Linked DNA regions of Homo sapiens: region 2 is linked to region 1. Evidence: fine-mapped expression QTL. A gene starts in region 1. The other region holds a variant in brackets. All regions are shown on one strand. Distances are between the middles of the regions.

Region 1 (8,339 bases):
GAAATCTGCACTGGCGAGCTTTTACTATCTGATTATCATACTGATATGCTAAAAAGAAAAAGCTAAACTGTCCTTTTAGATTATATGCTACATCCAAGGACACGCTATGAATGGCAGCATAACCTTGCATTTAGTTTCTTAACTCAAAGCTAATTGATATATTTGGAATTATTTAGCGTGAGCTGAGAAGTGCTCATTAGCTTAAAACTTTTTATGAAAAAACATATATACCCACAGCAGTGACATCAATAAGTAAAAAAGGAGGGCGGGGGGCAATTCATCATTTTCCATGCATATACATAAGCCTGAGCAGTTGGTTTCATTGTGTTTCAGAATAAGGTATTTGACAGCCCTGCTGACGCTCTTCTCTGGACAAATTAGAACATCTTTACCTTTTTCTGGTTCTTGACTTCCAGTTCAGGGTCTTCACATTTGTTTGGCCCTTCTCCATTTTATTTATTTATTTTTTAATAAAAGCATCTCAGATAAGAATTTGGAGCTTCAGCTTAAAGGAGAAATCCCTCTAGATAATACACCGAGTAAAAAAGCTACATCCAAATTAATTAAATGACATGACCCAAGCATCTATTTTGAAATTATCTTAAGTATAGTGGGTTTAACAGAAACCACATATCATATAAAATAAACCGAATTTTAAAACATATATCATTCTATAACGTTTATGTTGACCAACAGTAAGGAAGTTCACTGTGCATATTTGCCGTGGAGAGTCATTCCATGTCATTTTTCTCACCCATGCAATACATACCCTAATCAAAATATATGTGCATATGCATAATTGAAATGGTCCTCAAAATTAGCCAATGAGTGGAATGCTTTCAAGCATTAATCTATAAAAATATGATTTTTTATAAACTTCTGTAAATTTTAAGCGTTCTAATATGACATCAATTTTTTCAAATAGTTAACATTTGGTAGCTCTTAGACTCCTATGAATTACTTCAAAAAATCTCCCAATAATTCTTAAAGAGTCAATGTTTTCAAGACACTTTGTTTTTGATGTTAATACCAGCAAATGTCCTCCCCCATGAATGTTTCTTTAGCTGTGTGATTTTCACAAGGAACAGGCAATAACACAAAGCTGATATTTAATAAAACCCAGCAAGATCTCTCATTTCAGAATCATTAAGCAAAACGACTCTGTCCTCCAAACAAAACATTTTTCAAGTTAACTTGATTTTTAAAAATATGTAAGAACATTTTGGAATGATCTTTTAAGTTTAACTGAATTTATATACCAAACTTTTGGATTTAGAGGGAAACTGCAGAAAAAGAAATATTCACGTTTCACAGTTTTTGGCATGTAGCAGCAGCTCGCAGAGGAAGCATTATGGCCTGGAAGCTAGGATAGGGCTGGTTCTCACTGTGCACTGTCTAGCTGTGTGGCCCGGCAAGCTACCTCTGCTGATTTCAGATTCCTTATCTGTAAACTGAGTCAAAGGACCATTAAACCTATTTTGTTCCTTCCAGCTCTAATTGTCTACTCTTCAAGTCAAAATGAAAAGATAAATTTCTAATGTTTAAGTTATATTTTAGTATCACTTTAAAATGTTCAAAATAATCTCAAAAGCCCAACCATCACTAGTATTGAATTAAAGATGAATCTATGTAAACTGTTAAAACTTTAAAAAATTCAAATGTGTGTTCATCTCATTTTGTCAGTGCAGTTTTGTAATTTATTTCTGAGTAGTCTCACTCTTTCTAATTATCATTCTCCAACCTCATCCCTTCAAAAACACATTTTTCAAAGTTTTACAAGTATAAAGGCAACGTGAAGTAATTTCTCCCTCTGCACTTGGAGTAATGTGCATCACTATTTTGTCTGGGCATCATTAAAAACGATTTCTTCCATATTTACTTTGTGTTTGCTAATTACTAATTTAAAATTAATTTAATTTAAATTAATACTAAATTACTTCAAAGGCAAATCCTATATAAGATTTTAAATTGAAAGGCAGCTTAAATCTGAGGCAGTCTAAAGGAAGATGGCCTAAATTAAGGGTCTCAAAGTACCACCAAATGTCTAACAACTGCTCAAAAAAGAAAAAAAAAAACTCAGAAAATACATAGTGCAAATTCTCATGCACCAGGACCACAGGACTGAGCCACCGCGCCTCCCACACAGTGCAAATTCTAAGCTGAAAAAAGTCCCAATCTAATTTTTGAAAACTCTATACTTATTTTAATTTAAAAGCCTTAATATTCCTGTGTAGGCTAACAACTGACAAGATGACCCGTAAGTTTTATAGAGCATTCTGATATGGATACTAACAGTCAAATATAGAGCTCCTGGCTGCATTTAAACAAAAGAAATATTTTCAAAAAAAAAAAAAAGAACTCACAAGGACAGTGGCCTTAACTCTTAAATTACATTTTAAAAAATACTTCATGACTGGATACACAGAATTTGCATTCTAAACTTACAACAGTTTTTTTTAATGGTGGGGGATTTAGGAAGGGGTTAGATCTTTTCCCATATCTCATTTATATAAATTAGCTGGCAACTCATCACCCAGTTTTCTTCTCTATGCTAAATTACAGAAGATTATATAGATAGATACAATCTCCCATAATGACGCACCCACTAGGAAGAGGTGTCTCAAACAAGAACACAAGTTCATTCCAGATTAAAACTAGAGCATAACTGGCCTTAAGGAACAAAATGTGACTGATCTGGAGAAAAGGATCCACCTACTGAAGAGAAGTAAAAATCTTAAGGGTCCAACAAATACACCTCAGAAAATGCTGCATGTTTATATGCTACCCTGCCTTGTGTTGTTTTCCACTTCCTGAAAGAACAGGTCAGGTGCTAACGGTAACAATACAGCATGTGTCTTCTGTAACCTCAAGCAAGGACATGATGGCTTGAAAAAAGCCTCTGCTGCCTTGCGTTTCTCTAGGCTGACTGTAGGGCTTTGGGTCATTCATAAACAGCAGGACCTAAGTTACCTGTATTTCCCTGGCGTGGTACACGATGATCAGACCGAGCAGGATGATCGTGGAGAGACTGATAAGGCATTTCAGAGCTAAGGAATACAGCGACGCCTGCAACACAGTCAGACAGAAGCACTTTTAAGAAAGAAGCACTTTTAACCGCCTTCCACGTCCCCAGAGTCAGTCAGTCCCCCACAGGTGGACCTGAACTCACAGAAGGAAGATAAGGGGAGAGGGGTGCACCTGTCTTGGCTCTGTGATCTGTCAGATCACTCGGCCTCAAAACCAAAAGAGACGAGAGTAGACCTGGAAAGACTGGGAAGACGCGTGGCTGGGCTGCTGGGTCCACGCCATAGAGGACCGAAGCGAGCGCCGCTGTTCCAGGCTAGCAAAACCAGAGGAACTTACTTCTGAGTTCAAGAGAGCGGGTTGAAAGGGCCCTTCTAAACATAATTCACGAGGGGATGAATTACAGATGGTTTCCCCACCGACTTCCAGAACCACTTACTTAAGGTGCCCGAATGCGCTGAGCACTCTTAACTGCCTCGAGAACTTTGGCTGCACGCGGAAAGGGTTCATCTCCGAGTTGTTTAGCTGACTACGGATGCGCGTCCTAGACGCGCCCGCTGTCCTGGCGGGCTCCCTTGATCGTCCCGGAGAGGCTAGGGATCCGCACGCAAAGGGTCCCCGCCAGTGCCCATCCCAACCACCCAGTGCCCGACTCCGGTAGCGTGGGCTGGGGTTCAAGCCTGTACCTTGTCGTAGGCGCCCCACGACAGCTCGGTCTCGATGACCATGACCACGATGCCGAACATGCCGAAGATGAGCGCGTAGTCGCTGAGCCGCTTGCGCTTTTCGAACAGGGCGCGCCGGTGGCCCAGCTTGTAGCCGATGTTCTGGTTTTTCTTTTTGCTGGACTTGGTGCCACTGCTGCTGCCGTGCCCGCTCCCGCCACCGCCGCCGCCTCCTCCAGTGCTGCCTCCGCCGCCGGTTCCATAGAGCGCCAGGTTGTTGGAGTTGTTGTGCTCGGGCTTAGACACCACGATCTCGGGGGCTGAGGACGAAACAGCGGCGGCGGCGGCAGCGGCTGCAGACGGGGAGGACGCGCCGCCACCTCCTCCGACAGACGCGGGGGGCTGCAGGGGCTGCGCCTCTGAGTCCATCTCGTGCAGGTTCCGGCGGGACGCGCTCAAGTTGCTGAGCGGCCGCATGACGCCCCCGTTGTACCTGCAGCTGCTCATGGCTATTTCGGTGAAGGGGTTGCTCTCGCGGCGCGCCTGGGGCTGGTGGTGCTGGTGGTGCGCCGGGTGCGGGTGGTGGTGGTGGTGCGAGAGCGGGGGCCCGGAGCCCAGACTGCCGAGGCTGCCCGTGGGGCTGGCGGCGGGCTGCAGGCTGTGGCACTGGTGGTACTGGGAGGCGGACGCCGACTGCTGCGCGGACTGCTGCGCGTACTGCTGCCGGAGCGCACTGGCATGGCTGGACGGCGTCAGCTCGCTCACATTGAGCTGGCTGCCCCGGCGCGACGAGCAGCAGCAGCAGCAGCAGGACGAGCCCGACAGCGGCGAGGAGGTGCGGGTCCGGAAGGCGCCGCCGGGCGAGGAGGTGCGGAGCAGCAGGGACAGGTTATCTCCCGCCCCCGCCGCCGGGGCACCGGAGGAGGCGCAGCTGTTGCACCGGAGGCATGGGCTGCTGCCGCCGCTGGCCGGCTGCTGGTGCGCGAGGTGCGGGTGGTGGTGAGGGTGCGGGAGGGGCGCGAAGGGCGGGCACGGCTTGTCCTGGCTCTGTTGCTGCTGCTGGCAATGCAGGTGTGAGGAGCGCGGCGGCGGCGGCGGCTGCTCTGGGAAGAAGCCGCGCTGGAACTGCAATGGGGTTTCCATGTCAGGGCTGTTAAAGCTGCAGGGAGACCAAGCGGTGGTGCACCCTGCGCAATGCGTTATGGTCGGGAGCGGGGACTCCTGCTGCTGGTGCGAGGAAGGGCCCATGCCGGCTCCGGTAGAATCCAGGCGGCGAGTCCGATTGGTTGGGCGCACCAAAACAATGGGCATGACATCACCTGCGGGGACCGAGACTGAGTTTGCGGCGCGCGCGGCTTAGGGAAGCGTGTGTGGCAGAGAAAGATGGGGAGGGGAATCTGCAGGACAAACCCTAGGGGGGTGCAGTCCAGAGCCAGGGCGCTCCAGGGCAGGGATTCCGCCTGCTGATTGCGTGGAGATGGAGAGCCCCCACGCAGTGCAGCTGGGCTGCAGGGGGAGGAGAAAAGAGAAAGGCGCCCCTCCCTCCCGTGCCGCTGCCCCCTTGACTAGTGCCGGACGCGCTGCCCGGATCACCTGCGCCAGCCACTGCAGCACGTCGGGCCACCTTGGCCGGGGGCAGGCTCAGGGACGGTGTGGAACCCCGACCACTTCTCCGACTGCACGCCTCGCAGGGCTGCAAAACAGCAGCCCCCTCGTCCCACGCCCGCTTCTCCCAGATCATCCCGCCGAGAGTGGGCTGCCGGCTGCCCGCCAAGTAACTGCGGGGGCACTGGCTTTGGGGAGAAAAAGTTTGGCGACCGGCTGCGCCAGTGCAGCAGCGTGTGGGGAGAATCCCGGGGCCTGAGCCCTGCCTTGGCCGCTGCGGGATCATAGCCGACCCCGAGACCGGATCTTTCCCAGCCGGCAGGCTCTGGAATCTGGATTGGGTGCGCGGCGCTCTAGCCCAAGTGCGCTGCGGCGCGGGTAGGGTTAACCGCCTCGGCACCCCGGCCGGGGGTGGGTGGGGGCGGGGCCGGAGGAGGGGATCCCCGCAGTCTGCCGACAGAGCCGGCCGGGCTTCCCGGGTCCCCCCTGGCGGGGGCGGAGGGCTTTCCCCGCTACCGCCAGCTCACATTTGCGCCTTCTCCAGAACATGAGGGGATGGCGCCCCCGGCCGCCGGGTCCTGGGCTCTGGCGCTCAGGCCCTCCGGCAGCCCGAATCCGGAGGTCCCAGGGCTTCCTTGCCGGTGGAGAGGCAGGCGGCTCGCTCAAAGGTGTGGGGGCTGCTCAGCCACCGCCGGCCTCCAGCTGCTCTTCTGCTTCTCTTCCTCCTCCTCACCTGCAGCGCAGACACAAAGCAAAGACCGGTCACAAATACGCAAATATCGAGCATCTTTGCCAAGTCCTAACTGCAGCGGCGGGTGGGAAAGGGGCCTGGCGCGGGCTGATTCACCCCGGTAGTCGCAGCCTGGCAGGGAAATTAAGAATGATAGCTTGGGCTGAATAGTCGCTGCCCACGGACAGTGCTGGAGTTTTGTTGGAGTTCGGTATCATTATTTATTTATTTACTCTCTAATAAACTAACAAAAATTGCATTTGGTGTCTCACAAATTCCCTGTGCTGTCTTCTTCTAAGAGATGTACCAACACAATGCACTAGGTGATCCTTATGTTCTTTGTTTCTGCTCCATCTTAAGTCTTTACATTTGCATTTCTTTGTGAATTCAAATTCCCGTCTCCCCCTAAAGAAGGTGAAAGAAATTGGCCCGTTGAATATTTGTTTCCATTTTAAATTATTTTAAAGCCTGCTTTTCATGATAAAGACTATTACAACGAGTTAGACCTAGCAATTAGAGTGAAAGCGGATCACCCTCATTAGGTCATTAGGTAATTGGAATTCTCAGCTGGATCCAATTTCTTGATATTCTACTCGGCAGCTGCCCTAAAGTTGCTTACCTGGTATCTGCTTTTCAGAGTGTGCGTGTGTGCGCTTTCAATGCCATGGAATGAATAATTCATTTTATGATGTTCTTTGGACACATGTTAATTTTAATTTTTTGTGTGTGCAAATAAACATTCAGCAGAAAAAAAGGGGTGGGGGGTGCACAGCTGCTTTTAGTCCCGTAGCCCTGGACTTGAGCTAATTAATACTGTCCGGAATTGAATTTCTCAATGGTCTTGGTCAAGAATATAATTTAGTGGCTAACAATCAGAGACAGCATTTTGTTTTTATCATCTATTACTATTTTTGTTCTGTATCTTCAAAATAGCAATTCAATAAAACTTCTTTAGAATCACGAAGCTAATTGAGTCTTCGGGGCAGCTGAGTAGATACTGCATAAATTGTGTGGAAAGCATGAGTATTCAAAACAATCCTGCGAAGTAATTTGAATTAAAATGAAAGTTTCCCTATGAAAAGTTACTAACCTGGTCTGAAAAAGAAATTCAACTCATGCGGAAAATCCATCAAACATGTATTAGGACGCTTTTCAACAAATTATGTAGCTTTCCAGTTGCTATACGTAGCGATTGAGTGAAAATGTTTGATTCATCCTTACAAATCTAAATACTTCAAAGGAACATTATGGTAAATTAATAAATATTTTTATTAGCCGTTCATAAATTTAGATAAAAGATTACATAGCCTCCACCCCTGAAATATCATAATAGTTGTTGCCAGCATTAAATTAGATATAAGGTTCTACAGTTACTAAACTGTCATAAGAAAAATAATGGCTGCATCCCTTGTGTCAAACTGACTTTGTCAAATAGCAAATTCACGGCTTCAACAGAGGCTCCAAAACCAAAATAATAGGCAAAAATGTATCTTTTGCCATGTATATCTCTATGCTGTAATATGGGATTAGTTGCAGTGCTATTAATCATGTAGAAATCATGTAGAAATAATCATCTCAGAAATTGCCTACTGAGATTTATGGCAATGTTGCATGGAGTTCTCACTTCTCTTCAAGGGGGTACACAGGAGGATAGAATGCACAAAATTCAGAAGAAAATGGAAATTTGATTCACAACATGAGGGACTGTCGGAACACCAAAACTCAGACTAATACTACTTCCGGCTAGCACTATTTTGAAAAAGCTCATAAAATAATTTAATAATGTAAAACTCACTGTGATTGGACAGAGAGCAAATCAATCAGACATTTATCGGCTTTCTGTTAAGAAATCAACTGATTACACACACTCAGCCGTCTTGCTAATAAATATCTGTATATTGAGAGTGTGGTAAACCTGTATTACTATGATGATGAAAAAACACAAGATAATTTTGTTTCATTTTTAGTCTGAATCATAACTTCATTATTTAAGGCATTTTACACTATTAGGTTATAACAGGCACATTTAAGAAGTTCTTATTTTCATCATTCCTCTTTTAATAAAGTCAACAAATTTTAAGTTTATATGTAGACATTTAAAATGTGCATAACATGATTTCTTTTTTTTCTACACAGGACTGTAGAGATACATGTAACATGTAAAGTTAAATGAAGCAACAAAGGCAATATTCTTCCACGTGGATAGTAGTTTGCACATAGTAGATACTTATTTATATTTGTGAGTACAGAGAGAAGGAGAGAGGAAGGAAATGAAGAAACATTGGGGGAAAAAAAAAGACGCAGATCAAGGGCTA
Region 2 (8,339 bases), 220 kb after region 1:
CAATTTTTTTTTTTTCTGGGACATCTCTCTCTCTTTCATGTGCTTTGTTGCAACTGAAATTGCCATGGAAAGAAAGAGCTGATAAGCAACCCTAACCCAAGCTGACTGTCCCAACTCTTCTCATTACAACCCCCTTTGCTGTCCCACCAAGTGGAAGGAAGGGAGCTGGAGTGGCAGGACGGTGGAATGAGAACACACTGGAGTAAAGAAGGGGCTGGGGGTACCTGAGCCCTGTCCCCAACCCACTGCCATTTAATCAAGTTTTAACTTATTAATAGTTTCAAAAATCAAAAATGAGTGAGAGGGTTAGCTCTAAGATCCCTTAAGCTCTGTGATTTCTATTACCAGAAAAAGAAAGCCAAAAGAATCATTTTTTTCTCAACTCTACCCAAATGTAACAGATCTGTTTTACACTAGAAAGTTTCTCAGTGATATTTGATTTTAAAGAAAAAAAAAATTCAAAAACAAAACAAATTAAAAAGTTGTGCCTGAAAGGAATCTTGCTTTATTTGTTTTTTTGTTGTTGTTTGTTTGTTTGTTTTGAGACACAGTTTCACTCTTGTTGCCCAGGCTGGAGTGCAATGGCGCCATCTCAGCTCACCGCAACCTCTGCCTCCCGGGTTCAAGCAATTCTCCTGCCTCATCCTCCTGAGTAGCTGGGATTACAGGCATGCACCACCATGCATGGCTAATTTTGCATTTTTAGTAGAGATGAGGTTTCTCCATGTTGGTCAGGCTGGTCTTGAACTCCCAACCCGAGGTGATCTGCCTGCTTCAGCCTTCCAAAGTTCTGGGATTCCAGGTGTAAGCCACTGTGCCCGGCCTTGCTTATTTGGTTTTTATAAGAAGCTGCCTAGTTTCTGAGTCCTGTAAGATACAGGTATTTGGCCCTTGGTGTAGTTTCCATTTGACTTCTTGTCACAGGAAAAGACGGGTCTGATTCCTGAGCCCTCATATTAAATTGGCCAGATATAGGACCCCTGGCCAGTGGACCAAAGGCTTTGTGTAAGATGACAAGGGTCAGCTCAGGGAATGTGGGGAGGTATCTTTGGTCTTTCATGCTGTCGACGTTTTGATTTTCTTTGGTTAAAGAGGCCACTTATCTTTGTAAACCAAACATTTTTACTTTCTCTACTTTTCTGTTATAGGCAAAAGAATGGAAGTGAAGAAAGTTTTACTGGTTTTTCAGGTTTGTCAAAGATCAGATGGTTGTAGATGTGTGGTATTATTTCTGAGGACTCTGTTCTGTTCCATTGGTCTATATCTCTGTTTTGGTACCAGTACCATGTTGTTTTGGTTACTGTAGCCTTGTAGTATAGTTTGAAGTCAGGTATGTAGGGAGACCCCCTGAAACTCTTGCTACTACGGAATACAAGACGAAATGTTCCTGATTATTGTAAATACAAAGTTGCACGCAGGACTATGTAAAGTCAATGCCAGGTTGGACTGCCAGAATGAGCCAACAGTACGTGATGTGCTTCCCCCTGCAGAGAGCCTATGAACGGACATGCAGTCAGGGAGGTTTCACATCACCAAGATTCCTATCCCAGAAAAGCAGATGTTCATAGCTCTGGGAATGGAATGCGACCCTTGTGGAGAGCCTATAAACGGACGCATGAGGGGCACCTGTTCATAGGGATAAGACAGGGCTATAAATGCCCTCATCTTGCCACAGCTCTTCTTGGCCTCTTTAGGGTTAAGGCATACTCCCTTCTGAGAATTTTTGGTCTAACCGGTTGTCTAGCTTCACGTCCTGTTTCTATGGATTGTTTGTAACCAGCTTTTGCTGCAACTATTACTACTGATTAATATCTTGCTAATCATAGGTTATGGAAAGACTGTGTTTCTGTTTTAAGGCTCTGTTAGAAATTACTGATGCACACACTATATTTTAAATTCTAATCTCTGTATACTGTACTTCTGCATACAGATGTTATGTTAAAGAATTACTTCATTCCCATGTGACCATCTCACCTCATAATCAAATGACCCTAAATCCCTCACTAACCTACCCCCGCCCTCACTAAACTTAATAATAAATGCTGGTATATCCAGTGCATTGGCGGCATCACGGGACCAGAAGGCAGTGACCCCCCTGGACCCAGCTTTCACTATCTTGTGTGTGTCTATTATTTCTCGACCTGTCGATCTGCCTAGGAATAAGGAAAGAGCCCCGCTGCACTGTGGGCTGCTGGCCAGATCCTGCAATATCTGGCACCCAATATGGCCTTCTTTGTTCCTCGGCTCAGTGCACTCTGAGTGTGGGTTCATGATGACTAGTCTTCGGTCTCGACGATAAGGTCTCCAGGTACACCTTTTCTGACTCTCCCCTCTTTTCAGGTTTGTCAACTGGTATTATTCCAGGGTTATTATGGGACAATCACATTCTAAACACCAGGCTTATCTGTCTTTTATTAAACGTCTTCTTAAACAGGGTGGAATCCAGGCTGATTCCTATAACCTTATTCTCTTATTTCAGACTATTGAAAAATATTGTCCTTGGTTCCCTGACAAAGGTTCTATGGACCTGTTAGACTGGGATAGAGTTGGCACCACCCTCTGCCAACTCATGAGAGATGGTGTTTTACTTCCTATTTCTGGTTGGGCTGACTGGGCTCTTATTCAGGTCACTTTACTTCCTTTTCAGTCTGGTGATCCTCTTCAACTGCCACAAGTTAACACGGATGGTGAGCCGCTCCCTGTACCTCGAGTAGCTGACCCCCTACTAGTCCTCCTTCTGATCATGATGAGGAATTTGATCTCTCCTTGTTTTCTCCCCAAGAGGAGGAACCTGGTGATGATCCCCTCCCTCCACCTCCTATCTTGGAACCTGTATATGTTAACTCTTCTTCTACTAAGCCATTGCCCCCTCTGCCAGAGGAGGACATGTGGCATTCATCTGAATGGCCTGTTTCTCATTCCTCTCATCCTTTTAGAACTCTCCCCTCTTCTAAGCCTACTGTTTCTTTCGACACTCCAGGACCCCTTCTTTCAGAGGCTTAGAATCCTGTCTCCCCCAAGTCCACGTCCCAGTGCCCTCACTCTCCTTCTCTTCCTCTGCCTCTACACAATGGATGTATGAGTCACCTGTTTGGGTAGAGCAGTGGCCAATTTCCAAACACAAGTTGGAGGCTTTAATTGAAATTGTTAATGATTTACTACAAGCAAACATTATTGAGCCCTCCTTGTCTCCATGGAACTCGTCTGTGTTTGTTGCACAAAAAAAGTCAGGAAAATGGAGGATGGTAACAGACTTAAGAGCTGTTAATGCAGTTATTAAACCTATCAGGGTGTTACAACCTGGTATGCCCTCCCCCTCCACGATTCCTAAGAAATGGCCTTTAATTATCATTGACCTTAAGGACTACTTTTTTCATATTCCTTTAGACAAGTCAGACTGTGAAAAATTTGCTCTCACTATACCTTCCATTAACAATTCAGCTCCTACAGCTAGATATGAATGGAAAGTTTTACCTCAAGGAATGATTAACAGTCCTACTATTTGCCAGTTGTTTGTCAGTACTGTGTTACAATCTATTCGACAGATTTTTAAAAATAATTACATTCTTCGTTATGTGGATGATATACTGATTGCTGCTCCTACTAAAGATGAATTAATTCAATGTTTTACCTCTTTAAAATTAGCTGTTGCCAATGCAGGACTCCACATTGCTCCTAATAAAATTCAACAAGCCACTCCTTTTCTGTACTTAGGAATGCACCAACGCACCTAGAAGCTCGCGCCATTAAGCCCCAAAAAGTCCAACTTCATACTGACAATTTAAACACCTTAAATGATTTTCAAAAATTACTAGGTGACATCAATTATCTCAGACCAATCCTAGGCATCCCTACTTATGCATTATCTCATCTATTTGCTACTTTATCAGGAGATACAGATCTAAACAGTCCTCACTGTCTATCTGAACCAGCAGAAAAAGAGTTGTCTTTTGTAGAACAATGAGTGAAAGAGGGACAAGTCTCTCATATTGACCCAAATTTGCCTTTACAAATTTAGTTTTTCCTTTCATCCACTGTCCTGCAGGACTTATAGTACAAAATGATTCTCTTGTTGAATGGGTATTTCTTCCTAATTCAGCCTCTAAAACTCTTTCAATATATCTTGATCAAATGGTCACTTCAATTGGGTTAGGACGTCAACGTATCACTAAAATTTCCGGCTTTGATCCAAACATTATTGTGGTCCCTTTGTCAAAAAATGAGGTTAAAAATGCCTTTTCTACATCCTTGTGCTGGCACAGACTAATCTGGCTGACTTCACTGGCACTATTGATAATCATCTGCCTAAGCCAAAATTCTTTCAATGTCTACGAAACACTTCCTGGATTCTACCAAAACTTACTCGTTCATCACCACTAGAGGCAGGTGTTACCATTTTTACTGATGGATCCAGTAATGAAAAGGCAGTGTACGTAAGACCAAAAGATAAAGTCATTTCTACTCCATACACTTCTGCTCAAAAAGCCGAGCTGTTTGCTGTTATCTCTGCATTACAAGATTTTGATCAGCCTCTTAATATTGTCTCTGACTCAGCTTATATAGTGCTTGTCACTAAGGCAATAGAAACAGCTACCATCAAAAATATTGCTGACACTAATCTGTTTTCCTTGTTCTCT[T/C]TGTTACAAAAACCTGTCAGAAACTGAAACCACCCCTTTTTCATCACTCACATTTGATCTCATACTAATTTGCCTGGACCTTTATCCAGTGGTAATCATAAAGTTGATATTCTAGTTTCTCTAGCCATTACAGATGCAGAACAATTTCATCAACTCATTCATACTAATGCTTCAGGTCTTAAACATAAATATTCTCTGAGTTGGAAACAAGCTAAACAAATTGTACAATACTGTTCTCAATATCAGTGTTGAGATTGTCTCAACACTGGAGTTAATCCCTGAGGCCTTCTCCTAATGCTCTTTGGCAAATTGATATTACTCATGTTCCTTCTTTTGGAAAATTAGCTTACGTGCATGTCACAGTTGACACCTTTTCCAATTTCATCTGGGATACCTGTCAAACCGGAGAAGCCACTTCTCATGTTAAAAACATATGTTTTCATGTTTTGCAGTTATGGGAATTCCTAGTGAGCTCAAAACAGACAACGGTCCAGCCTATTGCAGTAAAGCTTTTAAAAATTTTCTTGATCAGTGGCATATTAAACATATTACTGGTATTCCTTATAACCCACAAAGCCAAGCTATTGTAGAAAGAAGTAACAGAACTTTAAAATTATAATTACTTAAACAAAAGAGGGGGATAAGGAGTTGTCTACCCCTCACATACAACTAAACTTGGCATTGCTCATGTTAAATTTTCTTAATATTCCTAAATCTAGTTCTGTTACTGTCACCGAAAAACATTTTTTCTGGTAACCATCTGACAATAAACCAAGTAAGGGAAGTATGGTGGAAAGATGTTCAATCTAATATATGGTCAAAAGCTTCTATTTTAACGTGGGGAAGAGGCTATGCTTGTGTTTCCCCAGGTGAACATCAACCTCCTGTTTGCATTCCTGCTAGACACCTGAAATTGTGTCCTGAAGATGCATGCAACAACGAGACAGAGAAATTTGCTGAAAAAATGCCACAGCAGGAAACAACTAGCACATCCAACCGTCAAAAAGAAAAAAAATAACCACGCTAACTCCTTTACAACAGACAATCCAGTCAGCCATCCTAAACAACTCGTCTCCAGCGGTCCAGGTCCGGCTCACCCTCTGCCCCCTCCTGATGACACTGATCCTTCTACCCTGTGTCACTCCACAGACTGTTAAAAACTATACATATTGGGCCTATATTCCTTTTCCTCCTCTTATTTGAGCCATGATATGGATGGACGCTCCTATCAGGTCTATGTTAATGATAGTATTTGGATGCCTGGTTCTGTAGATGATCGTTGTCCTGCCCAACCTTCAGAAGACGGAACCCCTTTCAATATCACTTTAGGTTTTAGGTATCCACTTTTGTTCCTGGGACCCACTAATGGATATCTCTCATTAGATATTCAAACTTGGGCAGTCACACTACCATCTGGTCACTCTGTCCCTCCTTTAGGACACTTGGTATCAGGGCTCTCATTAAAACTTCTAAGGCAGATCAAAATAGGAATTGCTCGCTGATTATATTCACACATCCCAATATAAGCCTTTAGGACCTGTGTGTCCTCTCAACGTGTCTTCAAATGCTAACAAATTAATATGGAAGGATTGTGTTAGTTCAGAAGGAACTGTGTTATTTAATTCTTCTCACTATACCATTGTTGATTGGGCTCCTAAAGGTCATATTACTAATGATTGCTCTCAGGGTCACAGATTGTCAACATTTTCTCTATAATATTACTTACAAAAAAGTAGTGACAACCCTCCCCTATTATATCGTAGATTTAACTCCTTTTTTCCTTTTAAGTGGAAAGGGGCAGGGGTTGCCCCTCCAAAGCCAAGGCTCATTGTTCCCCACTTAGGACCTGAACATTCAGAATTATGGAGATTAACCATAGCTATGACTGGTATGAGAGTTTGGGCTGGAGAAAGTGTTATAAGTAAATCCACCTTGTCACCTCAAAAACTAAGACAACAGATTGATTTACACTACTATTTCCACACAGCCAAAAATATCACTATGGCAATCGTCAAAAGGTCAATTCAAAGATGGGACAGTAAAGATTATGAGGACTTATACCCCCCCATCACTAATGTCCCCCCACCACCTCTCATACAACCTATTCCCCCCACCCCACATTCACAGAGTACCATCCCAAAATATATACACTGTCTATATGGAATCCAACAAAACTATACTACTTAAAAGTTGTGTTAAACCACCATATATGTTATTAGTAGGAAAGATGCATACTAGTTCAAAAACCAACATAATTACCTGTGTTAATTGTTACTTGTATACTTGTATTGACTCATCCTTTAATCAGTATCATAGCATTTTAATAGTCAGAGCCAGAGAAGGTATTTGGCTCCCCGTAGCCTTACATAGGCCTTGGGAATCTTTCCCCTCTCTCCATGTTATTAACAATATTCTACAAAAAATTCTTAAAAGGAGTAAACTATTTATTTTTACATTAATTGCAGTAATGATGGGCTTGATTGCTGCTACGGTGACTGCTGCTACTGCTGGAGTTCCATTACATCAATCAATTCAAACTGCCCATTTTGTGGATAAATGGCAAAAAAATTCTACTTGGATGTGGAATTCTCAGTCAGGTATTGATCAAAAATTGGCCAAATTAATGATCTAAGACAAACTGTTATATGGATGGGAGATAGAATTATGAGTTTAGAACAAAGATCACAAATGCAATGTGATTGGAATACTTCTGATTTTTGTATAACTCCGTTTCAACATAATGAGTCTGTTCACAATTGGGAATCAGTAAAACGCCATTGACAAGGAACTGAAGGTAATTTAAGTTTAGACATAAGCAAGCTAAAAGAACAGATTTTTGAGGCCTCTCAAGCACACTTAACTGCTTTACCTGGTGCTGAAGTTTTAGACAGTATATCTGACGGGTTATCTAATCTCAACACCATTCAATGGGTAAAATTTTTGGGAGGATCCACAATCGTTAATTTTGTTCGTGTATAATTTGTGCTATTGCTTTATTATTCATGTGTAAAACTAGAAAAAATATTCTTCAGTCCAATCATGATCAGTGCCAAGCTATGATTGCTACGGTTCATTTAAATCAGAGAAAAGGGGGAGATGTAGGGAGACCCCCTGAAACTATTGCTACTACAGAATAAAAGATGAAATGTTCCTGATTATTGTAAATACAAAGTTGCACGCAGGATTGTGTAAAGACAATGCCAGGCTGGACTGCCAGAATGAGCCAACGGCACATGAAGTACTTCCCACTGCAAAAAGCCTATGAATGGACGTGCAGTCACGGAGGTTTCACATCACCAAGATTCCTATCACAGAAAAACAGATGTTCATAGCTCTGGGTATGGAATGCGACCCTTGTGGAGAGCCTATAAATGGACGCACGAGGGGCACCTGTTCATAGGGATAAGACAGGGCTATAAACGCTCTCATTTTGCCATGGCTCTTTTAGGCCTCTTTAGGGTTAAGGCATACTCCCTTCTGAGAATTTTTGGTCTAACCGGTTGTCTAGCATCACGTTGTTTCTATGGATTGTTTGTAACCAGCTTTTGCTGCAACTATTACTACTGATTAATATCTTCCCAATCATAGGTTATGGAAAGACTGTGTTTCTGTTTTAAGGCTCTGTTAGAAATTACTGATGCACACACTATATTGTAAATTTTTATCTCTGTATACTGTACTTCTGTATACAGATGTTCTGTT

Direction of the effects. Alleles are on the strand shown, and positions count from the first base shown. SD is a standard deviation of normalised expression in the study named.
For the expression in esophagus muscle of the gene that starts at base 4,902 in region 1, allele C in region 2 goes with a lower level than allele T (small effect, 0.31 SD a copy in GTEx).

The links. PIP is the estimated chance that this variant, and not a neighbour inherited with it, causes the effect.
Region 2: its variant is fine-mapped to the expression of KCNN2 in esophagus muscle (GTEx, PIP above 0.99).

What each region holds. Positions count from the first base shown.
Region 1 is chr5:114,358,633-114,366,971 of GRCh38, reverse strand. It overlaps KCNN2 (potassium calcium-activated channel subfamily N member 2), which reads right to left and starts at 4,902. Exons shown (of 8, transcript NM_021614.4): 1 at 3,711-4,902; 2 at 2,971-3,066. The coding sequence starts at 4,832. RefSeq lists a silencer at 5,625-5,834 and an enhancer at 5,873-6,789.
Region 2 is chr5:114,143,225-114,151,563 of GRCh38, reverse strand. It overlaps a transcript of KCNN2 not described here. Among named protein-coding and RNA genes, the nearest start is that of KCNN2, 210 kb to the left of the region's middle. The variant T/C (reference allele first, on the strand shown) is at 4,638.